7 linked regions of the Homo sapiens genome follow. The protein of the gene in region 4 interacts with the protein of the main gene of each other region in a pairwise test. Each region holds a gene or a part of one and is shown on either strand. Other genes may lie near its edges. The genes, in order: PSTPIP1, SAXO1, HP, MVP, CAMK2B, PLSCR1 and RNF111.

The links.
Region 1: the proteins of MVP (region 4) and PSTPIP1 interact in a two-hybrid assay, tested with the Homo sapiens proteins (one large-scale study listed by BioGRID).
Region 2: the proteins of MVP (region 4) and SAXO1 interact in a two-hybrid assay, tested with the Homo sapiens proteins (one large-scale study listed by BioGRID).
Region 3: the proteins of MVP (region 4) and HP interact in a two-hybrid assay, tested with the Homo sapiens proteins (one large-scale study listed by BioGRID and IntAct).
Region 5: the proteins of MVP (region 4) and CAMK2B interact in a two-hybrid assay, tested with the Homo sapiens proteins (one large-scale study listed by BioGRID).
Region 6: the proteins of MVP (region 4) and PLSCR1 interact in a two-hybrid assay, tested with the Homo sapiens proteins (2 studies listed by BioGRID and IntAct).
Region 7: the proteins of MVP (region 4) and RNF111 interact in a two-hybrid assay, tested with the Homo sapiens proteins (one large-scale study listed by BioGRID).

Annotation. Positions count from the first base shown.
Region 1 is NC_000015.10:77,000,997-77,005,314, forward strand, and holds part of PSTPIP1 (proline-serine-threonine phosphatase-interacting protein 1), read left to right. Parts: intron 1-4,318. UniProt on the Homo sapiens protein: Involved in regulation of the actin cytoskeleton. May regulate WAS actin-bundling activity. Bridges the interaction between ABL1 and PTPN18 leading to ABL1 dephosphorylation.
Region 2 is NC_000009.12:19,022,822-19,027,139, forward strand, and holds part of SAXO1 (stabilizer of axonemal microtubules 1), read right to left. Parts: intron 1-4,318. UniProt on the Homo sapiens protein: May play a role in the regulation of cilium length. Stabilizes microtubules at low temperature.
Region 3 is NC_000016.10:72,057,307-72,062,175, forward strand, and holds the end of HP (haptoglobin isoform 1 preproprotein), read left to right. Parts: intron 1-85; coding exon 86-160; intron 161-947; coding exon 948-1,049; intron 1,050-1,807; coding exon 1,808-1,882; intron 1,883-2,805; coding exon 2,806-3,584; 3' UTR 3,585-3,749; downstream 3,750-4,869. UniProt on the Homo sapiens protein: As a result of hemolysis, hemoglobin is found to accumulate in the kidney and is secreted in the urine. Haptoglobin captures, and combines with free plasma hemoglobin to allow hepatic recycling of heme iron and to prevent kidney damage.
Region 4 is NC_000016.10:29,830,260-29,834,577, forward strand, and holds part of MVP (major vault protein), read left to right. Parts: intron 1-214; exon of another isoform or gene 215-255; 5' UTR 256-290; coding exon 291-415; intron 416-618; coding exon 619-814; intron 815-3,473; coding exon 3,474-3,597; intron 3,598-3,675; coding exon 3,676-3,807; intron 3,808-4,318. UniProt on the Homo sapiens protein: Required for normal vault structure. Vaults are multi-subunit structures that may act as scaffolds for proteins involved in signal transduction. Vaults may also play a role in nucleo-cytoplasmic transport.
Region 5 is NC_000007.14:44,224,264-44,228,581, reverse strand, and holds part of CAMK2B (calcium/calmodulin-dependent protein kinase type II subunit beta), read left to right. Parts: intron 1-1,937; coding exon 1,938-2,066; intron 2,067-2,690; coding exon of another isoform or gene 2,691-2,819; intron 2,820-3,268; coding exon of another isoform or gene 3,269-3,366; exon of another isoform or gene 3,367-3,397; intron 3,398-4,318. UniProt on the Homo sapiens protein: Calcium/calmodulin-dependent protein kinase that functions autonomously after Ca(2+)/calmodulin-binding and autophosphorylation, and is involved in dendritic spine and synapse formation, neuronal plasticity and regulation of sarcoplasmic reticulum Ca(2+) transport in skeletal muscle.
Region 6 is NC_000003.12:146,530,475-146,534,792, reverse strand, and holds part of PLSCR1 (phospholipid scramblase 1), read left to right. Parts: intron 1-1,242; coding exon 1,243-1,323; intron 1,324-4,318. UniProt on the Homo sapiens protein: Catalyzes calcium-induced ATP-independent rapid bidirectional and non-specific movement of phospholipids (lipid scrambling or lipid flip-flop) between the inner and outer leaflet of the plasma membrane resulting in collapse of the phospholipid asymmetry which leads to phosphatidylserine externalization on the cell surface.
Region 7 is NC_000015.10:59,025,356-59,029,673, reverse strand, and holds part of RNF111 (E3 ubiquitin-protein ligase Arkadia), read right to left. Parts: intron 1-4,318. UniProt on the Homo sapiens protein: E3 ubiquitin-protein ligase. Required for mesoderm patterning during embryonic development. Acts as an enhancer of the transcriptional responses of the SMAD2/SMAD3 effectors, which are activated downstream of BMP.

The sequences.
Region 1 (4,318 bases), on a different chromosome or scaffold from region 4:
TCCATCGGGAACACCTGTGGGTGTGGACATGGGTTCCTCATTTTCAGCAACACCACTGTTCATGGCTGCACAGTTCTCTAGCTTGTGAATTTGGTGACCATGCTGTGATTTTTTTTGCCCAGTCCTCCACTGCTGAACATTTAGGTTACTGCCAATTATTTATTATTCTGGACAGTGACACCATGGGTAGATCTTTGACTATAAAGGTTTTTCACTTGGGGATTATTTCTTTGGGCAGAGGAGGCTAATGGCTATTTTCCAGGGAAGGAGGCATTTCTGGGTGAAAGAGTGGGGCCAGTTCTCCAGCCATGGGTACTAGCAGTCACTTTGGGATCCCCCATAGTCCTCTGGTTGGGCAGGAGCTTTTTCACACAGGAAGGAGGGACCCCAGAATGGCCTGGAAGGGTCAGGGCCTGTGGATGGGGCCCTGCTGGAAACCAGAGCCTGCACTGACTTTGTGGAAGGCCTTGCAGCCCAGCAAACTGCTGTGGCTTTGAGGGCCAAGGAGGCCAGTGGCTGAGGAGTGGCCCTGGTGCACTCAGAGCTTGCAGACAGTGCAGGAGGTGGGAGAGAGAGGCCCTGGCCATCCTGCCTTTGCTGCCACCAAGTACCTTCCCGGCACCTGCCTGGCTGCATCTGTCAGAAGCAGTGAGGACGGAGGCTCTCCCTTTCCTGATTGGGAAAGCTCTTTAAGACCTGGTGTTCCCTGTAAAAAGCAGAGAGCCTGGCAGTGCACCTGGTCGGCAACCCGTTGTGAAAAGTGGGGAAATAAGCATTTATACTGGCGCAGGCTTGTAGTATTAACAACAAAAATCTGTGGACGGATGCACAGGGAGCTAATTAAAGTGGTTGCCTGTTGGGAGAATGAGAGAAAGGAGATGGATGAGGGATGAGGCTGAGCGGCTGTGAACGTTTTCAGGATTGATGTTTTTATACTGTTTGATTTTTGAACCATATGAATGTATTAATTATTCAAAAATTAAATCAAACAATTAAAAATGAAAAAGAGGACATTTATTTCAAGTCCCATGAAGAATTTTTCCCTGAATCCCAGCTACTTACATCATCCCCTGAGGAGCAGCAATGCTGCCATTTGCTGAGTGCCTGTTCCATGCCAGGCATGCTGCCATTCAGTCCACATGCCCCCAAACGCATTGTCAGTGTCTTCCTGACTCTGTGATGGGACCTAAGGCACGGCAGGTCTAGGCCCAGACGAGGGTCACCTGTGCAGGGTAGAGCAGGGACTCCCACCTAGGTCTGTCGAACTCTATTGCCCTCTGCCCTGAATTCTAGAGAGTTTGTTCTTGCTTCTACTTTAATTTGTGTAGGATGAAAGGATGCTTCCCTACATGTTAACACTGGTGTCTATGGATTTGGAAGTAGGATTCTCTCCATCCCCCATCTAATTTTCTGCAAGTCAATACAGAGTACCTTTGTCATTAAAAAGAAAATATTTAAAAAGAAAACTAAGCAATTCCTGCTTTCAAGAATGAGTTGGTGTTTCTAGGCCAAATTTGTGGTTTGCTAGCATGCCCTTTTCCACATGCTCGGTGCATATTTTGTGGTACGTGGGCCTCTGGGGACCAAGAACTTCGTTCATCTGTGCCCATTCCACAGGACGTGGCCGGCTGCTCAGGTGTTAGAAGATTGCAGAGGTTTGTGGTCATGCTTGCTTTGCTTTTGCGATGCCTGCAGATGGTCACTGCCAGGATTTGCTGGCTGCAGGGTTCTGGGTCGATTTGGTGTTCTGAATTCAATTTTATTCTTGATAAAAAACAAGATCTGCTTCTTGATGACCCACTTTGTGCTCCAGTCCCCTGGAACCCACATGCTTTTCCTGGCTGCTCCTGACATCTACACAGAACTAGGGCAGCCCCTGGGATGGAGAAGGAGGGCCTTGCTTTGGGCTTTGAAGGGTGGGTGAGGATTTGAGACATGTCAGGAGGACAAACGGCACTCAAGGTGGGAGGTACGGCATGGGCAAAGGTGTGGAAGGGGGTTTGGAAGACAGTTTTCTGGCCCAGAGCATTGTGCAAGGTGACTGGTAGGAAGGGAAGGCACGAGCTGGATTGTGAAAGGTCTCTGCCCTAAGTGGTGGCAGAGATACTTTCTTCTGCCTCTCTGCACCCTCTCTGGTGGTGGCTGTTTCCTCTCATGCAAAAGAGGACAGAGGCTGCGGGCTGTGAGTGGGATGCCCTTCCTCCTCACCCAGAGCCTGGCTGACGCTGCAAACCACATGATGGAGGGAACTTTGGGTGGAAACCAAGACTGCCTCTGCTTCCAGCTAGAGAGCATGATGCCCTGGGCCCTGGGCTGCCCACACCAGGACTCTCCTCTGGGTTGGCTCTGGAAGGTTCCTCCCTCACAGACTCAGTCATGCTCCATCCTCCAGGCTTAGAAGGAAATCGGCTTCTTGGGAGGCCGAGGCGGGTGGATCATCTGAGGTCAGGGGTTCGAGACCAGCCTGGCCACCATGGTGAAACCCTGTCTCTACTAAAACTACAAAAAAATTAGCGGGGCATGGTGGCGCATGCCTGTAATCCCAGCTACTCAGGAGGCTGAGGCAGGAGAATCGCTTGAACCCAGGAGGTGGAGGTTGCAGTGAGCTGAGGTTTCACAATTGCACTCCAGCCTGGGCAAAAGAACGAAACTCCGTCTCAAAAAAAAAAAAAGAAGAAGAAGGAAGCGGGCTTCTTTGAAGCCTCACCCAACCCTCACCCACACTTGCTAGGTGGCCTTGGAGAATCATTTTCCCTTTCTGAACCTCAGTTTCCTCATCTGCAGGATGTCAGGGTCGTCATCACTTAAGATAAGGGCTTTGAGGTTGGGGCGGCTCAGGGCAGTGCTAAGGGACCACCTCCTGCTCACCACAGTGGAGTAGCAGACCAGGAACAGTTCCCAGGGGACCCAGATTTATAATTGGATATGCACCCATAGGGTGAGCCTTATACATAGATCTTGCTGTTTCAGAATGCCTCCTCCAATCATGTTCACCATTGCATGTTATACTCCACCATTAGAGAATCATTCCTTTGGTTTCAAGTAACAAGATGATCTATGTTATCTCACTTAATTCCAACAATAGTCCTGTGAGGTCAGTATTCTTATTCCTGTTTTACAGAGAGGAAACTGAGCCTCTTGGAAGGAATGTGGGCCTGGGGGATGCCACACAGATGGATCGGACTGGGCTGGGCCTGGATGCCACCTTCCCAGGTCTGGGTCAGAGAGCCCTTTGCAGTTAATGGGAGGGTGTGTTGGTTTGCTGAGGCCTGGCACACTGAGCAATGGGTGATGGAACAGGCAGGAGAGCGACAGCTCCTTCCACTGGTGTTGACAGGCCACCCACCATTGGGCAACAGGAAGTGCCAGCTGGAGCCCTGGAGACCAGCAGCCAGTGTGGGGATGTGGTGGCCAGATGGAACTCAGGGCTTCCCAGCTGTGGAAACAGGAACGGGAAACAGCCACACTGGGGAGGAAGTCAGGGGGTGATGGGCTGAGGCAAGAGCATGCCTGCGTGGCTAGAGAGAGTGACCAAGGTGGAGAGTAGTTGGAGATAAGGTAAGAAATAGAACAGTGGCCAGGCGTGGTGGCTCACACCTGTAATCCCAGCACTTTGGGAGGCTGAGGTGGGAAGATCACTTGAACCCAGGAGTTCAAGACCAGTCTGGGCAACATGGTGAAACCACTTCTTAAAAAAAAAAAAAAGTACAAAAATTAGCTGTACCTGGTGGTGCACACCTGTAGTCTCAGCTACTTGGGAAGCTGGAGTGGAAGGGTCACTTGAGCCCAGGAGTTGGAAACTGTAGTGACTGTATGATCGCACCACTGCACTCCAGCCTGGGCAACAGAGCAAGACTGTCTCAAAACAAACAAACAAACAAACAAAAAAAACAAAGAAAGAAAAGAGAAGCAGAGAGCCAGATCTTGTAGGACTGTCATTCTAAAAAATCCCAATGCCCAGGCCACACCCCAGGTCAATTACACCCCGATTTCTGAGGGTAGGACCTGGACATCAGTATTTTTCAAAGTTCCCCAGTGCCTCCATGTGGAACTTTAGCTTGAGAGGCATCAACATAGATAATTGTGGTAATTAATTACCATTGCTGGCCAAGCATGGTGGCTCATGCCTATAATCCCAGCAGTTTGGGAGGCCAAGGTGGGCAGATCACCTGAGGTCGGGAGTTCAAGACCAGCCTGGCCAACATGGTGAAACCCTGTCTCTACTAAAAATACAAAAAATGTAGCCAGGTATGGTGGTGCATGCCTGTAATCCCAGCTACTTGAGAGGCAGAGGCAGGAGAATTGCTTGAACCTGGGA
Region 2 (4,318 bases), on a different chromosome or scaffold from region 4:
CCAGAGAAACTTCAAAGTTACTTTGAACAAGCTGGTAAAGACAATAAAACAGAATAGTAGGGTATGCTATGCAGGGAGTACGTCTTTAATCCCCAGAGTCATTGTTTTGAAGACTTGCAAAGTTCAAAACTGAACAGCAACTTAACCTTAGTGTTTGTTAATGTCAGTATGAACTCACAAAGCCTAATAAATGCTGGACTCAAGTGTAGGCATCCCAGAAAGGGCAGAGAGCCTCCCAGAGTATAAGGAGTAGATGAAGTCTTTGCAAACCATTCTTATCATCAATATTTAATCAAGCCCCCCAAACACCAGATTACATCCCCCCCCACCCCCCCGCCCCACCGGAGTTAATTCTCTGCAGGGCATTTTTTATTACATGCAAGTTAGTAAACAATCCTAACTCTCTTCTCTAGGGTGCGAGCTCCACAGAGCTGCTGGCAGGATCTCCCACTCAGACTCAAGTGCTCAGGCAAGTACACTTCTTCATTCTTCATTGCCTAGAACAGACCTTTATGCTTATTTAATAACATCTACCTATGCCTTACTGTGGATGCACGCATTGTTCTACTTGCTTAATACTGATTCAATCCTCTCAATAACTCTGTTGAGTCAGGTTCTATCTCCCTTTTACTGATGAGAACGCTGAGGTACACAGAAATAGAAACTTCACTGTGAAATGGTTTAACATGACACAGTTAGGGAGCAGAAAGGCTGGGATTTGAACCAAGATAGGCTGGCTCCACAGTCTGCGCTTGGAACTGCAATACTCTGCCACTTCTCGTAGTCAATCATCACTTAATCATGTGTTAAATCAAGTTAAGAAAAGTGACAAGAATGGAATGGAGATAATATATCTTTAAGGAAATATTAGCAAACTACAAATCCACTCAGAAAAACCAAAACATTAACAGATTTAAAGTCAGCCTAATTCAGATATTGGGCATTTCTGAAGAAGAAAGAAGGAAGGAAGGGAGGGAGGAAAGCAAGGAAAGGAAAGAAAGGAAGGAAAGGGAGGAAAGGAACGAAGGAACGAACAAAGGGGGCCAGGCACAGTAGCTCCTCACACCAGCACTTTGGGAGTCCGAGGTGGGAAGATTGCTTGAGCCCAGGAGTTTGAGACTAACCTAGGCAACATAGTGACACCTCATCTCTATATTTTAAAAAAGAAGAAGAAATGCTACTCTTTAAGGCTTTTTTTTTTTTTTTTTTTTTTTTTTTTTTGCGGGGGAAAAGACTATTTATCTATGTTACTCTCCAGCTCAAAATCCATCCATGGCTCTTTGCTGGCGAGTTCACATTCTGAGACATGTAAGAGTCCCTCTGCAATTTGCCTCCAGCAAGCTTCCGGCACGATCTCCTGCAGGCTCAAGTACTCAGGCAGACATGATGTCTTCCGTGTCTCTCTGACTGCCCTGCCCTGCAGCAAGGGCAGCCGCACTAAACCCCAACATACCCTTTCCTCCAGGGCCTGTGCTCCTCTCCCGCCTAATCCTCACACCAACCTTAAGAATATCGCAAGGACAAAAAACCAAACACCGCATGTTCTCACTCATAGGTGGGAACTGAACAATGAGAACACATGGACACAGGAAGGGGAACATCACACACCGGGGACAGTTGTGGGGTGGGGCGAGGGGGGGAGGGATAGCATTAGGAGATATACCTAATGCTAAATGACGAGTTAATGGGTGCAGCACACCAACATGGCACATGTATAGATATGTAACTAACCTGCACGTTGTGCACATGTACCCTAAAACTTAAAGTATAATAATAATAAAATTTAAAAAAAAGTGGCAGAGCCAGCATTTGAAACCAGGCAGTCTCACTCCAGCTTCACTTTCCTCATCACTTCTCCATCCTAAAGCCTTCCCCGGCTACCCCATCCCAAAGCGCCTCTCCCACCCCTCACATCCTACATCACTTGTTTTATTGGTCTCATTCATCTAAGGGTAGCTGTTTCCACCCCTCCACCACCCATCCCGAGACATGTCATCTTTCCAAATAAACTATAAATCACCTGAAGGTCAGTAATAAATATTTTAATATCAATGGAGGGAATGACGTTTAAAACTGCCCACTACAGAACAGAATCAGAACATGTTACTCTGAACGGATCCATCTGCAGACTATAAGGTCGAATAGATCATGTTTACTGCTGTAATTGGAATATGAAGTTGTACTCTAATAATATCTGAAATTTGACATATACCCACTTGTACTCATTTTATAAGATGAAAGGTATTTATGAACAATTAAACATTAATTCTGATATCCAAAAAAGGCCATTTTTAAGGAGCATAACATAGCTTAACATGAAAAGTACATGAAATCTACAATAAAAATTCAATCTTAACGTGAAAGTTTTTCTTTTTTTTCTTGGCATCTCTATCTGGATTCTGCTAAAGATAAGTCATCAGCAAGTATCTGTTAAAGGCTGTTCTTTGTGTTTTTTTTCCTTAATCAGAATTTATGAAGTCAATTTTATTTAAATTAAAAATAAGAATTCTTCTTAAAACATGTAATATGAAACCAAGTCCTCAATTTTTTTTCCTTCCTCTTAATGTGTAACAGAGACTCTAAGAAAATAAAATCTAAGGTTAAGGAAATTTCCATCGATATGAAGAAAATATTTTCCAAAATTAAAATAACAAGTTCCTCCCTGGTTAACATAACTGATTTAAGTTGCAGATACATGGCTGCCCCTGAGATCACCTTCCTCCACAAGCTCTGTGAAAGGGCCAAATCCACATCCTTTTCAGCAATTTTTGAGTCCTCTATGGGACTACCTTTTTTATGAAATGCTGCACATACTACCAATGCTTCATAAATATTTCATGATACATTAACCAGTCCTGGAATTTCCTGCAAGATTGCACAAAATCTTTAAAATGGTGCACTGTAAGCTGTAAAATAATCAGATATAAAAGTAAGCTATATCAATCCCTTCATTAACAATTTTTTACAAGAATTTTAGAAAAAGTAGTGTTACTACATTTTAATCTCAGGAGGGAGATTTGCTATTTATATTACTTTACTAAAAGGCTTTTAGAATTACACTTTTTTTTTTATATCAGATACTATTTTCTCAGTTGGACCAGAGCCTTCATATTGTACTCTACAATCAAAAATGGCCCATTGTGGGAGTTGGGGGAACTAATTAAGTTGGTTAATGGATACAAAAATAAGTTGGATAGAAGAAATAAATTACAGTGTTTGATAATACAGTAGGGTGACTATAGTTATAATTTGCCATATATTTCAAAATAGCTAGAAGATTATTTGTAAGCTTCCCAATACAAATAAATGATCAATGTGTGAAGTGATAGATATGCTAATTACCCTAATTTGATTGTTACATGTTATATGAATATATCAAAATGTCACTTGTACCCCAGAAATATGTACAATCATTATGTATCAATTTTTTAAATGGTCCAGTGTGACTCGAAAATAGACCAGACTATAAATTTTAACACCTAGCAGTGTCTGATACCCAGTAAAATATGAATAAAATTTAATTGATTGACCTAAATTGTGCCTGAAGCTTAACATGTTCCCATATATTAAAATTAATCTCAATGTTTCTATTTCCTTATCTGTAAAATAAAAGAGCTAGAGACCACTAAGATCCCTTTCAGCTTTAAAAGTCTGATTAACGTTTTACTTTACAGCAACCCTGCCTTGCGCCACCCACTCCCCCACCTAACCACAGTTTCAAATTTAGTCATCTGGGAAAGAACAGCTCAATAGACTGAAAACATCGCCAGGGAAAAGAGAGGCTAAAATCAAGGAATCGAATTTCCAAACTAAGCAATGCTTCCCATGTTGAGGGACCCACAGTAAGATAATAATATATGGGAAAATACTTTTTGAATTTTCAAAATACTGTAAAGATGGAAGGTGGTTTAATATTATAAAATGCTGGGCCGGGCGTGGTAGCTCACACCTGTAGTCTGAGCACTTTGGGAGGCTGAGGTGGGTGGATCACAAGGTCAGGAGTTCAAGACCAGCCTGGCCAACATGGTGAAACCCCATCTCTACTAAAAATTCAAAAACTAGAAAAGAAGATGGCAACCGTGTGGGATGAGGCCAAGCAAGATGGAACTGGGGTGGAGGTGCTCAACATGTCCACGGAGGAGATCATCCAGCGCACATGGCTTCTGGACAGTGAGATCAAGATCATGAAGAGTTAACTGTTGAGAGTCACCCATGAGCTCCAAGCCATGAAGGACAAGATCAAAGAGAACAGTGAGAAAATCAATGTGAACAAAACCCTGGTGTACCTTGTCTCCAACATCATCGAGCTCCTGGATGT
Region 3 (4,869 bases), about 42 Mb from region 4:
AATTCTTCTCCTTAAATGCCTTCTCACTCTGCTCTGGGTGCAGACTTGACTTTTCCTTTGGCTCATTTCTTGCCTTTTGTTTCAGGAGTATACACCTTAAATGATAAGAAGCAGTGGATAAATAAGGCTGTTGGAGATAAACTTCCTGAATGTGAAGCAGGTGGGTGCTGAGCACTGAGCACTTAAGAGAGCAGGCAGGCGTCCAGCGGGGAACGTCCTAGAGGCACAGCCTTCCAGTGCGGCTTCCTCTGAGCACACAAGAGCCAGGAGGAGGGATGTGGGAGAACCGCAGCTGGCCAGGGAGAGACTTAAGCAGTTAGGTGATGACTCCCTAAGGGTCACCAAGGGTCTTGTTCATTGGGGCCTGAAGGGCACTGGCTGAATCCACTGTCGGCACTGCCCACAGATCAGGAGAGCCTGTGCATACAGAGAGCCTGCTAGAAAGCCCTGGGTCTAAGGAGAAGCAAGCTCCAGGGAGAACAAGTCAAGGAATGACATAAAATCTTAATCCATGGAAGCCTAGCAGGAGGCTGGACATGGGCTGGAACTCCTGCTTCTCGTTATTAGGAGGAGCTGTTGCTCTCTCCTTTCATTCTCAGAACCAGAGGCAAAGACCCAGCCTCTTCTGCTCTTACTGGTGTGGAAATGCCAACCTGCCTCGTATTAACTGCACCATCTACAAAATCTGAGCTCCAGCCAGTGCTGCTCTAGATTCATCTTTCTTTAGAGAGAATGAATTATTGTAGCCCCTAGCCCTTTCAATGAATTTCAGGGAATTGTGGAAATTCCTTTATTGGGATAATTGTTTAAAAATAATACAGTTCGCGAGCTTCTATTCGGGGTGGAAGGAGATTGATGTGCAGAGCAGCTCCCGCTCATCTGACTTTTCACGGTTCACTGGGAACAATTTCCAAATAGCAAACTCTCTGGCTTCTCTCTCTTTGCAGATGACGGCTGCCCGAAGCCCCCCGAGATTGCACATGGCTATGTGGAGCACTCGGTTCGCTACCAGTGTAAGAACTACTACAAACTGCGCACAGAAGGAGATGGTAAGATGTGGACAACTGTCTCCATGCCCTACATACAACCCCCTTCTCTGACATTTCCATGATGGGTGGTGCTGAGGTGATTCGCCAGAAAGTTCGTTGCTCTCCTTGGAGCCAGGAGATTTAGATTCTAATAAGCGTTTTGTCGCCAGTAGCCATGGCCCTTTGGGCAGACTAACTTTTGTCAGCCTCAAGTTTTCTGTTTTGTTAAGGGGAGGCGATGCCATGCAGCCTACCTCATGTAAATCTCAGAGTCACATTTACATCTCCAGCAGATGTGGGAAAAGAAGGAATGCTGATGATGATGTCACCCTCACCTAGTGAGTCTTGCTGTCCTGGCACTGCTCTAAGGGCTTTATACTTATTTGCTCACTTAGTCCTCACAGTATCCCTCTGAACAGAGTTTATTGTTTTCACTTTGCTGATAAGGAAACTGAGGCACAGACAGGTTGAGTATCTTGCCCAAATTCAGGCAGCCTGTAAGAGGCAGAGTCAGGATTTGAACCCTGAGCCCTCCCTGTACTGCTTGGCTGTGACCGCCATGACCACAGTGTGTTCTGCTGGGCTTAACTGGCATCCAGGCACTTGGCTTCCAGCACAGCACTCTTTCCCTTCCTCCTTCTCATATACTCTCTCCTTTTCCCCTTCCTTTTTGTCCCCTTTTCCTCTTCCTTTTAGTTCTTCTCTTTAAATGCCTTCTCACTCTGCACGGGGTCTAGACTTGACTTCTCCTTTGGCTCACTTCTTGCCTTTTGTTTCAGGAGTGTACACCTTAAACAATGAGAAGCAGTGGATAAATAAGGCTGTTGGAGATAAACTTCCTGAATGTGAAGCAGGTGGGTGCTGAGCACTTAAGAGAGCAGGCAGGCGTCCAGCGGGGAACGTCCTAGAGGCACAGCCTTCCAGTGCGGCTTCCTCTGAGCACACAAGAGCCAGGAGGAGGGATGTGGGAGAACCGCAGCTGGCCAGGGAGAGACTTAAGCAGTTAGGTGATGACTCCCTAAGGGTCACCAAGGGTCTTGTTCATTAGGGCCTGAAGGGCACTGGCTGAATCCATTGTCTACATCGCCCACAGATTAGGAGAGCCTGTGCATACAGAGAGCCTGCTAGAGAGCCCTGGGTCTAAGGAGAAGCAAGCTCCAGGGAGAACAAGTCAAGGAATGACATAAAATCTTAATCCATGGAAGCCTAGCAGGAGGCTGGACATGGGCTGGAACTCCTGCTTCTCGTTATTAGGAGGAGCTGTTGCTCTCTCCTTTCATTCTCAGAACAAGAGGCAAAGGCCCAGCCTCTTCTGCTCTTACTGGTGTGGAAATGCCAACCTGCCTCGTATTAACTGCACCATCTACAAAATCTGAGCTCCAGCCAGTGCTGCTCTAGATTCATCTTTCTTTAGAGAGAATGAATTATTGTAGCCCCTAGCCCTTTCAATGAATTTCAGGGAATTGTGGAAATTCCTTTATTGGGATAATTGTTTAAATATAATACAGTTCACCAGCCAGGGCTCAAAAATCTCAGTATTTCCCACTTCCTTTGTTAGAAAAGTGGGAAATAGAGCTTTTTGTAATGTAAACAATTTAAAAAACAGAATTATTTTAAAACTGCAACTATTGGAAATGAGATCAGCAGGTGGTAAGGGCAAAGCATTTAAATCTTTCTACTTTACGCAGCAGTGACAGCCGCCCATGCTTTCACCCCTTTCTCAGATGGAAAGGCTCTTGCACATTTCCACTCACGAGTGTCTTGCTCTCCTTGACAGTATGTGGGAAGCCCAAGAATCCGGCAAACCCAGTGCAGCGGATCCTGGGTGGACACCTGGATGCCAAAGGCAGCTTTCCCTGGCAGGCTAAGATGGTTTCCCACCATAATCTCACCACAGGTGCCACGCTGATCAATGAACAATGGCTGCTGACCACGGCTAAAAATCTCTTCCTGAACCATTCAGAAAATGCAACAGCGAAAGACATTGCCCCTACTTTAACACTCTATGTGGGGAAAAAGCAGCTTGTAGAGATTGAGAAGGTTGTTCTACACCCTAACTACTCCCAGGTAGATATTGGGCTCATCAAACTCAAACAGAAGGTGTCTGTTAATGAGAGAGTGATGCCCATCTGCCTACCTTCAAAGGATTATGCAGAAGTAGGGCGTGTGGGTTATGTTTCTGGCTGGGGGCGAAATGCCAATTTTAAATTTACTGACCATCTGAAGTATGTCATGCTGCCTGTGGCTGACCAAGACCAATGCATAAGGCATTATGAAGGCAGCACAGTCCCCGAAAAGAAGACACCGAAGAGCCCTGTAGGGGTGCAGCCCATACTGAATGAACACACCTTCTGTGCTGGCATGTCTAAGTACCAAGAAGACACCTGCTATGGCGATGCGGGCAGTGCCTTTGCCGTTCACGACCTGGAGGAGGACACCTGGTATGCGACTGGGATCTTAAGCTTTGATAAGAGCTGTGCTGTGGCTGAGTATGGTGTGTATGTGAAGGTGACTTCCATCCAGGACTGGGTTCAGAAGACCATAGCTGAGAACTAATGCAAGGCTGGCCGGAAGCCCTTGCCTGAAAGCAAGATTTCAGCCTGGAAGAGGGCAAAGTGGACGGGAGTGGACAGGAGTGGATGCGATAAGATGTGGTTTGAAGCTGATGGGTGCCAGCCCTGCATTGCTGAGTCAATCAATAAAGAGCTTTCTTTTGACCCATTTCTGTGTTGTGTTCAGTCTTGAGTCTTTTTTATTTGCTCCTTTATGGTCCAGGGTAGTCAGAAGGTATAGAGTCTACTGGGAGTATGGCAGAAAACACCCTAAACCCACTGGAAATCCCGAAGGTGATACAAACTCTTCCACCTTAGGGAATCATGCTCACTGATTGAGTGCCTATTGAATGCTAGGTCCCAGAAAGTTAACTGTTGTCCTTGTTTTACAGACAAGGAAACAGAGACTCAGAGATGGTAAGTGAGTTGCTTAAGGTTACATAGCTATGAAACAGGGAAGCAGAACTTTGAACCCAGGTCTGTTTGATACAAACTCAGAGGTCCTTTCACTGCATGCTGTTGCCTCCTCAAAGTGAATTAGGAGAAAAGGCATGGGCCTGGTTGAGGAAGAGGCTAGCTCAAAATGGGATGGGGAAAAAGTGTTTTAACACAGACAGTACTTCAGAGTTTGGGATCTAACCTACCAGCACTCCAGAAAACAAAAGACAATGATGTAAAGGCAGGATCTCTGGACTTACTGAGTCCAAATCACAGAATGGCCCATAAATTTGCTAAGTAATTTAGGTTTCCTGGCCATCAGTTCCTGGTCTCTTCCATGAAGGACTTGAGCCAGGCGATGGCTAATGTCCCTATCAGCAATAACCTTCTGGTATTCCATAAAGAGTGGGGAGGTAGAGTCCCTGCATCAGTAGAAGCTGCTTTTCCTACTGGGAACAAACCCACCCTGCACCAGGAATCAAATGCAGGCTGTCTGAGCCTCCTCTCCTGATGGCAGGTCATGCTATTAAGGGTCTCCCAGAAGAAAGGTTCTGGAACTCTGAGAAACAGAAGCTCTTCTAACAGAACTTTTTCTTGCTATAAGCTTTCAATACCACCAATCACCAGTGCACCTTCTTCTCATGCCAAAATACGGCCCCTCCTTTGTAGGGTGTAAAACGACACTGATGTCACTCTCTCTCACCAAGGTCTGGCCATCTCTGTGAAGCTCTCCTCACAGGCACCCTGCAGATTCATCAATAAACTTCAACAGGTTAGCGCCAGTAGGCCAATAAGATGCACACTTATATTCTAGAACCTGTGAAAGAAGTAATAGCCAGAAACTGGAAAAT
Region 4 (4,318 bases):
TTGGCAAGGAACCCTGGGCCTCTGTGGCTCACTGCATCAAGCAGTTCTTGGCAAAGGTAAGGTCAGGATGGGCTGTGTCGTCTTGGGTGGGGTGAAGACAGGGAGCAGTGGGCATGCAGATGCGGACAGGGAAGGGTGCAGTGGCCTGGCTGGAGGAGGTAGGGCCGTATCCCACCCAGAGTCTGTCACCAGATTCATGCCTGCCCCACCCCAGGCTCCCCAGGTTCATCCTGTGTCGTCTCCCCCACCTACCAGTCATCTTCTTGTGAGCCCTGGGCTTAGGAGTCACCATGGCAACTGAAGAGTTCATCATCCGCATCCCCCCATACCACTATATCCATGTGCTGGACCAGAACAGCAACGTGTCCCGTGTGGAGGTCGGGCCAAAGACCTACATCCGGCAGGACAATGAGAGGTGGGTGTGGGGGCTGGGCTGTGGGGGATCCTTGGGGATGTGGGGGCCTGTTTGGCTGGCATGATGGTCCTTATCCTCCTCCCTCTTCCCAAGCAGGAGTGGCCCTCGCTTGGGCGATAGAGAGGTTTCTCTCTCATTTGGTGTCCTCTTTGGTAGTGGAGACCTGGTCCCAGGTCCTCACACCTCTTCTCATCTTCCTGCAGGGTACTGTTTGCCCCCATGCGCATGGTGACCGTCCCCCCACGTCACTACTGCACAGTGGCCAACCCTGTGTCTCGGGATGCCCAGGGCTTGGTGCTGTTTGATGTCACAGGGCAAGTTCGGCTTCGCCACGCTGACCTCGAGATCCGGCTGGCCCAGGACCCCTTCCCCCTGTACCCAGGGGAGGTGCTGGAAAAGGTACCTGGTTTCCTCACTCCCTATGCCCCACCCTACCTGTCCTCCACCTGCCTTGGGCTCTATACTGCTGCCTTCTTCTTCTTTTTTTCTTTTCTTTTTTGAGGCAGAGTTTCACTCTTGTCGCCCAGGCTGGAGTGCAGTGGCATAATCTCGGCTCACTGGAAGCTCCACCTGGGTTCAAGTGATTTTCCTGCCTCAGCTTCCTCAGTAGCTGGGATTACAGGCACCCGCCACCACGCCCGGCTAATTTTTGTATTTTTAGTAGAGACAGGGTTTCACCATGTTGGCCAGTCTGATCTCAAACTCCCGACCCCAGGTGATCCACCTGCCTCGGCCTCCCAAAGTGCTGGGATTACAGGCATGAGCCACTGTTCCCGGCCTGTACCGAGTTCTAAAGGGAAAACAAACCAGGGCAGTGGGAGGGGTGGGGAGAGACACTTGCTGGCTCTCACCAAGGGTGGAATTGACTCACTGTACCTCCACTCACCTCCAGCCACCCCCATCCTCCACACATGCCCCAAACACACCTGCCTCTTTTCTGAGAACTGTTGGCCCATCTCACCTTCCCAGGCTCCAGAGCCTACCAGAAGTGCCCAGCCAGTCTGGCATTAAATGACATGTGCCAAGGTTAAGCAGTTCATTCACCCGGTGCCAGACACTGGTGGGCAGTGCCAAAGCAGCAGTGACAAGCCCAGGCCCCAGGCTGTGCCTGTTCTAGGAGAAGCCATCACAGGCCTGAACCTACAGCCAGGCTCTTGTCCCCGTTGGCCTCAGGCCTGGGCCTGAGCAGGTGGGTGTCCCACCTTCATTCCTTTACCTGTTCTTCCACCTTTACCTTCTGGCCATTTAATGGTTTTGGGTTTTTTGTTTGTTTGTTTGTTTGTTTTTAATAGAGACGGGGTTTCACCGTGTTAGCCAGGATGGTCTTGATCTCCTGACCTCATGATCCGCCCGCCTCGGCCTCCCAAAGTGCTGGGATTACAGGCATGAGCCACCGTGTCCAGCCCCATTTAATGGTTTTCTTACTGACTTTACTAACCAGTGCTGCTTGATCCTGAAAGCATAATAGCAGAACATGGGGAACTTTTAGAGACATTCATGTCCACTTAGGTGCAGACAGTTTGGGGGAAGAAGTGTGTGTGTAGAGAGAAAATGAAGAATGATTAAGACAATAACCCTTAAGGAATCCAAGTGAAAAGTATATAGGGATTCTTGTACCTTTTTTTTTTTTTTTTTTTTTTTGAGATGGAGTCTCACTCTGTTGCCCAGGCTGGAGTACAGTGGCATAATCTCGGCTAACTGGAAGCTCTGCCTCCCAGGTTCACGCAATTCTCCTGCCTCAGCCTCCCGAGTAGCTGGGACTACAGGCGCCCACCACCACACCCGGCTAACTTTTTGTGTTTTTAGTAGAGATGGGGTTTCACCGTGTTAGCCAGGGTGGTCTCGATCTCCTGACGTCATGATCCACCTGCCTTGGCCTCCCAAAGTGCTGGGATTACAGGCGTGAGCCACCGCGCCTGGCCTTTTTTTTTTTTTTTTTTTCTGGATCTCCCCCTGTTGCCTAGACGAGAGTGCAGTGGGGTGATCATAGCTCACTGCAGCCTCAACCTCCTGGGCTCAAACGATCCTTCCACCTCATTCTCCCAAAATGCTGGGATTGCAGGTGTGAGCCACCAAGCCCTGCCTAAGCTTTCATTTTAAATATGTTCAGCCGGGCACAGTGGCTCACGCCTGTAATCCCAGCACTTTGGGAGGCCAAGGTAGGCAGATCACTTGAGGTCAGGAGTTTGAGACCAGGCTGGCCAACATGGCGAAAACCCATCTCTACTAAACATACAACAATTAGCCAGGCGTGGTGGCATGCGCCTGTAATCCCAGCTACTTGGGAGGCTGAGGCATGAGAATTACTTGAACCTGGGAGGCGGAGATTGCAGTGAGCTGAGATTGCGCCACTGCGCTCCAGCCTGGGTGACAGAGCAAGACTCTGTCTCAAAAAAAAAAAAAAAAATTAGCTGGGGGTGGTGACACACCTGTAATCCCAGCCACTCAGGAGGCTGAGACAGAAGGATCACATGAGCCTGGGAGATTGAGACTGTTGTGAGCCATGGTTGTACCACTGCAGTCCAGCCTGGATGACATAGGAAGACCCCATCTCCAAAAATAAAAAAAAGCCAGCTCTTCCTTTGAGCCCCAGTTTCAGTTCAAAGGGCCTTCTCTAACTTCTCCTTCATCTGAACTCCTGAGACAGGGTCTTGCTCTGCTGCCCAGGCTGAAGTGCAGTGGTGCAGTCATAGCTCACTGAAGCCTTAACCTCCTGGGCTCAAGTGATCCTCCCACCTCAGCCTCCCGAGTAGCTGGGACTACAGGTGTGCGCCGCCACCATGCCTGGCTACACTTTTTTTTTTTTTTTTTTTTTTTAGAGATGGGATCTTGCTATGTTGCCCAGGCTGGTTCTTGAATGTCTGAGGTCAAGCAATCCTCCTACCTCAGTCTCCCAAAGTTCTGGGATGACAGGTGTGAGCCACTGTGCCCGGCCTCCACCCCAGTCTTATTTCAGGACATACAGAGATGGATGTTGTGGACCCGCCTCCAGAGCATCAGGCTTGGCCCTGGGGTCACAGCACTGATGGTTCTGTGTCTCCACCTTCTTCCCCACTAGGACATCACACCCCTGCAGGTGGTTCTGCCCAACACTGCCCTCCATCTAAAGGCGCTGCTTGATTTTGAGGATAAAGATGGAGACAAGGTGGTGGCAGGAGATGAGTGGCTTTTCGAGGGACCTGGTAAGTTCTGTCTCCATAGGGCTCCCTGCCTTCCTGTCATAGCCCTGATACCTTCTGACCATCACCTTCCCTCCCCAGGCACGTACATCCCCCGGAAGGAAGTGGAGGTCGTGGAGATCATTCAGGCCACCATCATCAGGCAGAACCAGGCTCTGCGGCTCAGGGCCCGCAAGGAGTGCTGGGACCGGGACGGCAAGGAGAGGGTGACAGGTGGGGTCACCAAGGGGCGATGATGGTGGGTGGGCAGGAGGGGTCCCCACTGCAGGGGAAGCAGGGGAAGGTTGAGGAAAGCCTCCTGTAGCCCCAGAGAGGCGCTTTCCTGGTATCTTTTGAAAGCTGTTGAGGGCCACCCACTGCTCTTCCTTCCCCACCCCCGCTTCATGCTGTTTCCACTTGGGCTGGAAAATGTGACCATGACCATGCGGATGTGGCTTTTCCTTCCCTCACCTTCACCATGAGCTGTGGGCAGTGGCCATGACTTACCTGATTCTGGATCAACAAAGAAGATGTTCAAATACAATTGACAAATGTAGGCCAATAGGTACAGTGGCTCACACCTGTCATCCCAGCACTTTGCCAAGGTGGGTGAATCGTCTGAGCCCAGGAGCTTAAGACCAGCCTGAGCAACACAGTGAGACCCCATCTCTACAGAGAATTTAAAAATTAGCCTGGCCTTGGACACACACCTGTGGTCCCAGCTACTCAGAAGGCTGAAGGGGGA
Region 5 (4,318 bases), on a different chromosome or scaffold from region 4:
GCTCCTGCTCCCACTGCCACTCCCCGCTCGCTGTCCAGCCCCAGGCCCCTCTCCAAAATGTCTGTCCCAGCCCTGGGCAGCCCTGGCCCCTCCGAGGCCCCCCATGCCCCTAGGCCCTCTCTGCTGATCACTGTCCCAGCCCCACAGACTTCACACCCACCCAGGGGCCCTGCCCATGGTGCCCAGGAGCTGCACTCAGGGCCACCCTGGTTCCTGATGTGGCCCCAACCCCTGAGCACCCTCCCTCAGTCTAGGAGGCTGAGGAAGGTGCCAAAACTGGAACCCCGACCAGGGTCTCTGGAGCTCACCAACAAGGGGATAGTACGGAGAATCATAAGCCTGGCCTCTGCTGACCTGGGCTGTCCTCATGGGGCCAGGCCAGGCCTCCTCTGTAACGCCCGTGACTCCCTCCTCTCCCTGTAACCCCGTCCAGCGTTCCTCAAGGGCCACTTACCTGACAGCTTCTTGCTGGCCAGCAGCCTCTCCCTGGAGGGTGCCCTCTGCCCCCAGCAGCTTCAGCCCACGCCACCCGACAGCCAGAGCATCTGCCCTTCACTCCTGCAGCCTCCTCTCCACGCACCACGCTGTCCGCAGCAGCACCCTCTGTCCCCCTGTCTCCCTCCGTCCCCCCATATCCCCCTCGGTCAGCCTACAACCTCTCCACGTCCCCCTAAGTCCACGCTCTATCCCTACATCCCCCTCTGTCCCCCAAATTCCCCTCTTTCCCTCATTTCCATTTTCCTCCCCAAACTCTGCTCTGCCCCTCACATTCTCCCTCTGTCCCCCACACCCTCCTCTGTCCCCCAGACTCTCCCTCTGTCCCCCACACCCTCCTCTGTCCCCCATATACCCCTCTGTCCCCCACACCCACCTTGGTCCCTTCACGCCCTTTTCTGTCCCCCACACCCCCTCTGTTCCCTACACTCTCCCTCTGTCCTCCAGACCCTCCTCTGTCCCCCACACTCCCTCTGTCCCCCACACCCCCTGTCCCCCACACTCTCCCTCTGCCCCCCAGACCCTCCTCTGTCCCCTACACTCCCTCTGTCCCCCATATCCCCCTCTGTCCCCCACACCCTCCTCTGTCCTCCACCCCCTGCCCCCCATACCCCCTTCTGTCCCCCACACTTCCTCTGTCTTCCACACCCCCTCCTGTCCCCCACACCCCCTCTGTCCCCCAGACTCTCCCTCTGTCCCCCACACTCCGTCTGTCCCCCACACCTCCTGTCTTCCACACCCCCTTCTGTCCCCCACACCCCCTCTGTCCCCCATACTCTCCTCTGTCCCCCACCTCCCCCTCTGTTCCCCACACCGCCTTCTGTCCCCCACACCCCCTCTGTCTTCCACTTCCCCTCTGTCCCCCACATCCCCCTCTGTCCCCTGCACCCTCCTCTGTCCCCTGCACCCTCCTCTGTCCCCTGCACCTCTCTCTGTCCCCCACATCCCCCTCTGTCCTCCACACTCCCTCTGTCCCCCACATCCACCTTGGTCCCCTCACGCACCCCCATCCCCCATGACCCCTTCTGTCCCCCACACCCCCTCTGTCTTCCACACCCCCCTCTGTCCCCCACACCCACCTTGGTCCCCTCATGCCCCCCATCCCCTACACCCCCACTTTGTCCCCCCACATGCCCCTCTGTCCCCCACGTTCCCTTCTGTCTCCCACGTCTCCTCCATTTCCCGTTTCCCTCTCTGTCCCCCAAGCTCCCCTCCATCCCCCACATCCCCTTCTTTCCCCTATATCCCCTCTGTCGGCCCAGGTCCACCATCTTCCCCCCACACCCCCCCATTCTCCCTTCCTCCCCTCTGTCCCCTTGTGCCCCATCCCCCACATCTGCCTCTGTGCCCCTCAATCTCTGGCTTGGCTGTCTGCCCATGGTTTCTCTCCTGCGTGCCCCCCGTGCCTGCCTTGTGTTCACGTCTCGTCTGTTCCGCCCCAGCCCCCAGGATCTCTGACATCCTGAACTCTGTGAGGAGGGGCTCAGGGACCCCAGAAGCCGAGGGCCCCTCGCCAGTGGGGCCCCCGCCCTGCCCATCTCCGACTATCCCTGGCCCCCTGCCCACCCCATGTAAGTAGCACCTTGAGTGGCCGTGGCAGCGGCTGCCCGGAGGGGCTCGGGGCGTGCGAGCCTGGCAGTGGTGCTCTGGGAAGGGCCATTCTTGCGGAGGAGGGCGGGGCACAGGATCCCTCTGCTGGGTCCCAGGGAATTGCTTTGAAGCACATGAAGGTGCCACTGGGTCTCAGAAAATGGAGGTTATGGTTATGAAGTGTGTATGACATATGTGTATAGGAAGAGCGTCCGAAAGAGCAGGTTTGTTGCCGACCCCAGCATTCGCAACCCTGAGGTCCACAGCTTTCTCCTGATGGGAGGGGAATGGGTGGCAAAGGGTCTGCGCGTGTGGCAAGGGCTAGCACGCCAGGAGCTGCTGGCTTGGGTCAAGGTGGACCTGCTGGGCCGGGACAGAAAAGTGTCAGTCCCGGCCTGAGACGCTCTAGCATTAGAGCTGTCCAAGTCCAGACAGCAGGGAGCAGGTGGGGATCGGGAGGCGCGGATCTGGGGGGCAGCTGGGGCCAGGCTGAAACAGAGCGGGCGGGACAGGAAGCACAGGCTGGGCAGCCTCCCCGGCCAGGGAGGAGCCAGGCTGGGCCACCTCCCGGTCTGTCTGCCGACTACCCGCAGTATCACTTACAGGGATGGATGACATCCCAGGGCTGCTGCCACCCCCACCTGTGGGGAGACACCAGACTGGGGGTGGTGTGGAGATACTCTTAGAGAAGAGGCTGCTGGGCCACGGGCTCGGCATGGCAGGGCAGTGGCTAGGTAAGTACTTGAGGGACAGGTGGGGTCTGCTTGCCACCGTCCCCTCTGCAGGCTGGGCCTGGGGGCTGCTGCAGGCGGCCAGGGCAGAAGGGTGTGGGGAGAGTGAACCCACAGGAGCAGCGGCTCGAGGAGGGGGATGCAGGCTGCAGGCTCAAAGGGGCACTGGATCCACCCTGGGTGCCCGAGAGAGCAGGGGGCAGCCCCTGGAGGGGTACTCACCCCCAGAGCTTCTGTGGTCGGCTGAGGACCCCCAGCAGGGGTTGACTGAGGGGATCAGAGGCAAGCAGCTGAGGGGAGAGGCCAGGTTCTTGATGCTGATAGGGTCGGGGTGCCTGGGCGACCAGAACTCAAGGAGGGAGGCATGGGGAGGGGCCGCCGTGCAGCTGGGGTGGGTGCACCGCAGAGCCTCTGGGAGTGGTCAGAACCCCCGACACCTGCCACTTCTACAGCAGCTCATCTGATTTTAAGGGGCTTGCTGCCCTTGCAGAAGTGGAGGGGTGTGCCCAAAGGAGCCTGCCTGGAAGGTCACCCCATCAGGTTGGCATGACCCCAGCCCAGGACTGCAGCCTGCCCTCAAGGTCTGTGCAGTATCTGGGGTGAGTCCTCTGAGGACAGGGCCCAGGGTGGGTGTGGAGTGGCCAGCTCGGGGCTCGGTGTCCAGGCTCACCTTCAGGGGCCACAGCACAGACCTGCCCTTCCAGAGTCTTCCCTGAGCTTGGCTGGGGAGGAGGGGGCTGCAGGAAGGAGCTGTGAGCAGGGCAGGATGGAGATTCGTGTGGCCCTCCTGGGAGGGGCTGGGCAGGGCTGGGAAAGGGGTGGGTGAGATGTTCCGGAACTCAGGGAAAGGAAGAGTCTGGGTACTGCCCTGGGGGCACCTGGGCCCAGGTGGCAGGTGGCCAGCTTTCTGCCTCCTTTCCACCTCCTTTCTCCAGAAGGCACCCACCAGCTGTGTAAATAGGGCAGGTGCCCACGGCCCGCCTCAGGCCCCGTCTCCTCCCCACCCACGCTCTCTAATCGCGGATTATACACAATCCAGCCTGATCCCTGGGCAGCTGCCCTCCCTCCCGCAGCCACCTCTGGCTCTGAGAGATGGGCTTGGGGCCAGCCTGGGGTCCCAGGAGTCCAGGCCAGGATGAGAACCTGCTCTGACCCCACCTGGACGCATTAGGCCTGCCTGGACCTGTTGCCTCACCCCAAGAGAGCCACAGGCAATGCAAAGGCTCCTGTTCATGTCAGGGCACCTGGAAGGCCTGACTTGCAGAGGCTCTTGGCTCGTGCAGACCCCTCCAAGCCCAGGCCCTGCCCACCACCTCCCCTTTGTCTCTGGAACTGCCAGGACAGCTTGTCCTCAGCCAGCAGGTTTCCCGACCCGGGCACCTCTTCATGTTGGGCCCCCCTCCTTTCCCTCCATCAGGGATCATGCCCTTCTTCAGGGGCCTGGATATCAAGGACACAAAAGCTCCCATGTGCTATGTGGGGAGGCAGAGTGGGGGCTGGGT
Region 6 (4,318 bases), on a different chromosome or scaffold from region 4:
GTGATTCTCCTGCCTCAGCCTCCTGAGTTGCTGGGACTACAGGCGCGTGCCACCATGCCTGGCTAATTTTTGTATTTTTAGTAGAGATGGGGTTTCATTTTGTTGGCCAGGCTAGTCTTGAACGAGTAGGAGAGCGGTTTTTTTGCCTGATTTTACACAATCACCATGGACTGGATTCCGCTGAAGTCATCATGAAGCTATTTATGAAGGAGAAAGGCCGGGGCAGGGGGTGGGGGAAACAATCCAATCTTCCTGATAAAACCACACGATTCACAAGTTGAGTGGTCTTTGAAAGTTCATAATAGAGACACATACAGAAAAATGTGTTACAGTGAAAGTTTGACCTATATGTTCTTCTATATTGATGCCATGTCTCCATGATTCTAAAACAAAAGACTTTGAATTTACAGTTAGTAATTCATAAGGAAACAGATAAGGAGATAAGTGTAGTGTCTACTGCACCTTAAGCTGTATGAAAGCAGAGCCATTGTAGCCACAGAGCCTAATTCAAGGGTGACACAGGACATGCTCAGTAAATATTTAGAGACTGGCTGCGGTAGGTAACCGAATGACTAGATAGACATGAATATTAATATTTAGGAGGTTGAACCATTTGTGCATATATTAAGTTTACTCAAGCCTTATTAGCAAATAACAAAGTTTAATATGCTAGTGTATTGTAATTAAACATGGCTTTTGTGGGTCAAAAACAGTCATATTTGGGGAATTTCATATGGTTCAACTTCATTGGTGTAGTTCCAGAGTAAGCATAACATATATAAATACTGAAGTATATTCATTATTTTAAATATTTAAAATAATACTTACAGCAATGATGATAGATATCTTTAAAATCATCCATAATTCTACCATCTTCACATCCCATTAATTTCATTTATCTCTTTCTTCGTAGTCTGTATGTAATTTTAAAGCTATCTTTGTTTTATTATCAACAAAACATGGAACTGAACATTCATCAGGGATGTTTCAAAAACTGGTAATTCAGCCCCAGTAACTTAACTGTCTCATTTTATCTAAAGGAGAATTTGTTTGAAACAAATTTGCTAGTTGCAAATTAGCTCTGAGAACAGGCACAGCTTACGTTAAGTGAAAATTTTACTTTCCCTATTTCAATACAGCATAAGAACATACAAGTTACAATTATCTAAGTACAATACATTGTTTCTTTCTAATATATATTTTATTTAATCAGACATCTATTTACCTCTCCTTGAATTGCAGACTCACAGATGAATGCTTCTCACCCGGAAACAAACTTGCCAGTTGGGTATCCTCCTCAGTATCCACCGACAGCATTCCAAGGTAAAGCAGTTGCTGAAAGAAGAAAAAGTAAAATTAATTGAGAGACAGAGAGAGAGAGTGAGAGTGGGAGAGAGAGAGTAAGAGAGAGAGAGAATTGTGCATTTGTTTTTATTTTAGTAGTTCTTTTTTTAAAATTATATTAATGAAATTTTGGCAGCCTAGTTGTTCTTGATTATTTTTATTTGGCTATCATTTTGCACAGAAGTAATTTTTATTTATAGAGGACAGTAAAGGTATAAAGAAAGCTAGTAAAAACAACATTAGGTTTACATTTAGCAAATGAAATACAAGACTGTACATCCTAAAATACAAATGTTAAGTAAAATATTTTATTGATCCTCCATCTGTTCTGAAAATTATGATCATTTAATCACATTTAGGAAATTTATTTCTGATAAACTGAGTCATGTAGTAGCTTGGCATGTGTTCAGTGAGAGTCACATCAAAATAGTAAGACTGCTTAAAACTGAAAGTAATAGAAATTCAGTTACCTGGGAATAATTCTCATTTTAATTTTATAATGTATATGAAAGCTTTATTTTTATATATATGCTGATTCCACCCTGTATTTCTAAGAAAAGTAATTGAGTCATTTGACTACATACATAATTGAGTACATTTTTTCTTTTCAACCAATGCCTGAAAGAATTCAGAGATTTTCATTTAGGCAAATGCAGTTATCAAAACTACTAGAACTTTAAAAATAGCAAAGTCCATGGCATGTCCAGATTTACAAGCAGACAGGCTACCCACATCTTGAAAGAGCATCCTGAGGATTTAGGACCAAAGGGAATGTGGTTTGGATAGAAGGATGTACCCACTGTGTTTTCTTCTCTGAGTAAACAAATGTGCTTAGGAGCTGAATGTCATGTTTAATTGCCTAGCAAGAAACCTCCCTGCGGGTCCCGGATCTCATCCAGATGTTTGCAACTGAAAGAATATGAGCTAGATAAGCTCAGACTCTCAAGTGGTGGCTCATGGCAACCTTGTCTGCACTGAAGTATCATCACCCAGAAGCACTTAAAAATAGTAGTGCAAAGGCACTATTCCAGAAAAATTAAATCATAGCTTCCAGTGGTGGGACTCAAGGAATAGTAATCTTTTAACACCCCAAGTGATTCTAAGGTGAAGCCAGGGTTGAGAACATCTGCTCTAAATTCTTATAGGGTTGGTGTTTGAAAAATCATTAGTAAGTCTATAATATTCATCCAAGGCACTTAAGAGAATGATTTAATCCACCCTATCACTAATTAAAAGTAGATATACATAAATAATACAGTTCAGATATAATCAGACTTGAGAGTTTGTTTATATATATAGATATATATGGCTCTACAGCTTGATTTTGTTTCTCAAGTCCAAGATTACATATAGCACAAGTCTTAAGATAACGATGCTAAGAGTAAGGATAATTTAAAATTGAGATCTTACCATGCTTTAGTCATTGTTTTAAATGTGGAGTTAATGTGGACTAACACTTTTAATTCTTAGAATACTCTTATGAGGTAAATACTGTCAGTTATCCCCATTATGTATGTGGGAAAGCTGAGGCATAGGAAGTTTGTATCAGGCTTCAAGTTCTGCCTACTTTAAAAAAAAAATTCGTATAGGTAAATGTGCTGGTAAACCAGGTTCTGCCTTCTGTACTAATAGTTATGTGGTAGTTTAAACAAGTTGCAGTACCTCAAAGCCTCAGAGTTCCTATCTATAAATAAGGGTGATATTTTCAATGTAGGTTGCTTTGTAGAGTAAATGAGAGTATATGTAAAACACTGAGCACAATGCTTGCAAATTATAAATGACAAGTATTTGCTAACATATTTAAAATATTTTAAATCAATTAGTCTTTACATAAATGATACTAGTATTCAAATTTCAGGTAATTCTTTATGCTTAATTCATTGATTTGAGGAGTAATCCATCATACTTTCAGAGTCTGGGGAAAATTATGATGATGTTAAAAATGTAAGAAATTAACTCACATCTCCATATCCCCACTGGTCTGCCTATGGTCTGGTTTCTGTGCTGACCCCAGTGATCTTTAAAAATGTAAATCTGCTCATATTACAGAGAGTGTAGAGCCCCTATTTTATTAGTGGCCTATTACTTTTAGGATAAAGGCTAACACTAAACTCAGGATGGCCTTTTCCATGCTCTCTCTTTAACTTCCTCTTGAGCCTGGCTTGCTGTTATTCAGCTAGACTGGCTATTTTTCAGATTTTTAAAGGCCTATGTTAGTTACTGTCCCAGGACGTTGCTCTGAAATGTTCTTTCTGTGACTCTGGCCTCCTGAACTCCTGTGCATCCTTCAGATCTCAGCATAAAGGTGACCCCTCAAGGCAGCTGTTCCTGCTCCTTCCCTTTTTCTCTTCCCATCTCAATAGCGACCTTTGGCATCTCTAGTCATAAAACCGTGGTCTCTTACTTGAAAGCATTTATCTCCAATTCTAATGAATCAATTAATTACACTGGTATTATAGCTCCCTAGAATAAGTGGGGATATAAAGTTGTCTCTCTCATTAAACAATGATGGGCAGGGATTGCATCTGTGTTTTCCATTGTAAATTCTAATGCTTTTCCACTCCTGAAAATTTTGTAAGATATAGATAAGACCATGGAACTCATTCTTCTGCTTAAATTCCTCCAGTACTTGCCAATCATAATTGGAACCAAATCCAGACTCCTTACTAAGGCCTCCTTTGATGAACAGCTTCCTGTTGCTTTGCTAACAGCCTTTCCTAGTCGTCTTCTTTCTTATGACATTCCTCTCTCTTTTACGCCTGTCAAATTCATTACAAAGTCAGAGGTATTCTATTTGCCTTTCTTTCCTCCTGAAGCATTTATCACTAATCTTCATATAAAGCTTTTCTCTTCTCATCTTTTAGACCTTGATATAAATTATATTTACCCAAAGTAACTGCCTCATACCCTGCCCTCGCTCGCATACATTCTCTCCATCACATCCATATGAATTTTTTTTGTTTTAAATGTGTTT
Region 7 (4,318 bases), on a different chromosome or scaffold from region 4:
ACCAGTTCCTAAAAAGCGAGTACAACAGCTGTTTAGTAAGCAAGTATTTTCCCTCTCTACAAATGGGTTACAGAAATATATAATCTTACAGGTCTCCCATGTTACTATAGTATATAACTTTACTATCAGAACAAATGACAATAATTAAGGCATAGAATGACCTATTCCTACAGAAAGCTATCAAAACCACTATCTTCTTTTATTCTTATTCACAAGCACAGGCAGTGCTGTATCCAAGATCAGCCATCACGCGCTATCTGTAGTTCAGCAGGATCAGTGATAAACCAGGAATACAAAGATGAGTGAACATGAGCATGGCAATGAGCAAATTACAGAAGGCAGCCAGTCAGACAAGGATCACTTTAATTAAAGGCAAGAACACAGAAGTCACAATGATAAAACACAGGTACATGTGATCTAAGAGTTGAATGGGGCCAAACAGGATGGCTGTAATAAAGAACACAGGTAATAACAAGTGTTAGAGAGGATGCATAAAAAAAAAACATTGGAACCCTCATATATTGCTGATGGAAATGTAAAATGATACAAGCTACTTTGGGAAGCGGTCTAGCAGATCCTCAAAAATTAAATACAAGCTGGGCGCGGTGGCTCATGTCTGTAATCCCACCACTTTGGGAGGCCAAGGCGGGCGGATCACTGGAGGCCAGGAGTTCGAGATCAGCCTGGCCAACATGGTGAAACCCCATCTCTACTAAAAATACAAAAATTAGCCAGGATAGTGGCGCACTGACTGTAATCCCAGCTACTTGGGAGGCTGAAGCATGAGAATCGCTTGAACCTGGGAGGCAGAGGTTACAGTGAGCTGGGACTGCACCGCTACAGTCCAGCTTGAGCAACAGAGCAAGACTCTATCTCAAGAAAAAAAAAAAAATTAAACACAAAATTGCTATGTGACCTAGCATTTCCACTCCTAGGTATGTACCCAAGAGAAATGAAAACACATATTCATAAAAAAACTTATAAACAGCAACATTAGTCATAACAGCCAAAAAAGTGGGAACACAAATGCCAATCAACTGATGAATAAATAAATCCATACAAAAGATTATTACTCAGCAATAGAAAGAAATGAAGTACGGTAGTCCCTCACTATCCAGTTTAACTTTCCACAGCTTCAGTTACTCACACTATGAGAGAGAGACCACATTCACATAAGTTTTATCACAGTATGTTGTTAGAATTTTGCTACTTTATTGTTGTTGTTAGTCTCTTATTCTGCCTAATTTATAAATTAAACTTTATCATAGGCATGTAGGTATATGAAAAAAAAAACACTATATGGTTTCAGGCATCCACTGGGGGACTCAGAATGGTTTCCCCTTGGACAGGGGCGCAGACTACCATACTGACTCAAGCTACAACATGGATAAACAATATGCTAAGTAAAAGAAACCAGTCAAAAAGATAACATAATGTAAGATTCCCTTTATATGGAATGTCTGGAATAGGCAAATCTACATAGATAGAATGTGGTTACCTAGGGCTGGGGATCATCGGAGGATTCAACTATGATGGCCGAAAAGCATGGAGTTTCTGGCCAGGCGCGGTGGCCAAACCCTACACTTTGGGAGGCCGAGGCGGGCAGATCACCTGAGGTCAGGAGTTCGAGGCCAGCCTGGCCAACATGGTGAAACCCCATCTCTACTAAAAATACAAAAAATTATCCGGGCATGGTGGCGTGCACCTGTAATCCCAGCTACTCAGGAGGCTGAGGCAGGAGAATTGCTTGAACCAGGGAGGCAGAGGTTGTAGTGAGCTGAGATCACACCACTGCACTCCAGCTTGGACAACAAGAGTGGGGAAAAAAAAAAAAAAAGGTGGGCCAGGTGCAGTGGCTCACGCCTGTAATCCCACCACTTTGGGAGGCTGAAGCGGGTGGATCACCTGAGGTTAGGAGTTTGAGACCAGCCTGACCAACATGGTGAAAAGAAACCCTGTCTTACTAAAAATACAAAAATTAGCCAGGCATGGTGGCAGGCACCTGTAATCCCAGCTACTCAGGAGGCTGACGCAGCAGAATCGCTTGAACCCAGGAGACATAGGTTGCAGTGAGCCGAGATTGCGCCATTGCACTCCAGCCTGGGCAACAGAGCAAGACTCTGTCTCCCAAAAAAAAAAAGAAAAAAAGGTATAGAATTTCTTTTATTTTCAGTGAACTGAAAATGTTCTACAACTGATTGTGGTGCCAGCTATTCAACTCTGTGAATATACTAAAAACCCAGTGAAATAAAATCTCAATAAAACTCCTGCCAGAAAGTCAAGAGGTTTAAAAAAAGTGAAAAAGTCAAGAGGAAAAGTATCAAGATTTCTAGGCATCAGAGACTCCATCAGCAACAGAAGTCTCATGATGTATGTTGGAAACAGCTGGGGTTCTTCCAGAAACCCATGTCAGAGTTATGTTCTGGTGGATTTCAGAGGAGGAGATCTTGGAGTCTTTATGGGCTGAAGATTTAAAAATTAGACTCCTCATCCGTAATTACTAAGTCCTCATGTTGATAATGGAGATCATGAGAAGCAATGAAAACTTGCCAAAAACCAGACAAATTCTGAGAACATGCAGCCATACATTAATTTACAAAGAAGCAATTCACAGCACAATTAACTAAACCCAATTTCTTTTCCATCATTTCATGTCCCAAAGCCAAAACAATGCAATCAACTCTTTATGGTTAAATCTGCTCTGATTTTTGATCAGTTTAGTCTGTCCAATGAGACAAGGGTAGAGGAGAGCAAGGGGGGGTGGTTTGGTGTATGCTGTGGTGTGTGTTTGTACACCAGTTAACTCTTCTCTGAGTTAACATATCATGCAGTCATTAAATGCAAAATTAATATCCCATATAACTAAGAGGTTCCCACCCAGGGAGTAATTCATACTATTTTTTTTTCTAAAATCCATCGCTGTATTGTATCATGTTCTAAATTTTTTTTTCTAAAATCCATCCCTGTAATTGTATCAGGCTGTATTTTGAACTTAGAAGAGGAAAGTTCAAAAGGAAATAAACACAAGTATTGCATTTAACTTAAAAAGCAGCAAATATAACAGATAATATTCTAAATTATTTGCTGTTTGATAAAACCATATTCTAGTCTTTTATTTTTGTAAAAATTATTGGCTGATCTAATTTACAAAGGAGGCAAATGCGTACAAGATATATCTCCTTGGTGACATTATAAATGGCTTGCTGTTACACACTGTTTCAATACTGAAACCATAATACTAGTCCCTCTTTGTGTAGATCGATCCAATCATTTCATTGCTATGTCATGATGACTGCATGCTAATTACTCCTGATACTAGTGTAGAATACACCACTATTAGTAAACCTTGCACTAAGAAAATACGATAGCTAAAAAAAAATACTAACTTTCAAAACTAAAAATTAGGGTTGGGATTTAGTAATTCACATCATAAACAAGTTTATGTGAGCAAAAGGAGGAAAAACCCATTAAGACTATCCATACAACTCTGAGGAACTCTACTTCTAAACTGTGATACACTATTATTGGTATGATGCTTCACCACCAATTATAAATATGAATACTTGTTTCAACTTTAAATAAAAATGTAATGATTGCTTACATGACTCTAAAGAAATAAGATTTTAAAAGAAAAAAAAAAAGCCGGCCGGGCACAGTGGCTCACGCCTGTAATCCCAGCACTTTGGGCGGCTAAGGCAGGCAGATCACCTGAGGTTGGGAGTTCGAGACCAGCCTGACCAACATGGAAAAAACCCGTCTCCACCAAAAATGCAAAGTTAGCCAGGCGTGGTGGCACATGCCTGTAATCCCAGCTACTCGGGAGGCTGAGGCAGGAGAATCGCTTGAATCCGCAAGGCAGCGGTTGCGGTGAGCCGAGATCGCGCCATTGCACTCCAGCCTGGGAGACAAGAGCAAAATTCCGACACAAAAGAAAAAAGAAAAAAAAAAAGCCATAGATGACTTGGCATTTTTCTACAAAAGTTTTAGAGATTATCAGAAAATCAACTAGAAATATGTCTACCATTTAACTATCTTTTTAATATAATTAAGTGAAAAAAATAATACCTGTACTACAGGGATATCACTTGGGGTGTGTATTAAATTTTTAATTCTCTTATTTATTTTACTATGTGCCAGCTTAAGTATATTAAATCAAATGCCTGAAAGAATATTCTCTTCTACTACCTATAACTACTACTACTCATATCTAGATAATACAGACAATATGCTTTGTTACATATTCTAAATAGCCAAAATTTCATTAGCAAGAAAGGTATTTTCCCTCAAAAGTATCACTATGGACCCTCAAGTGCATTAG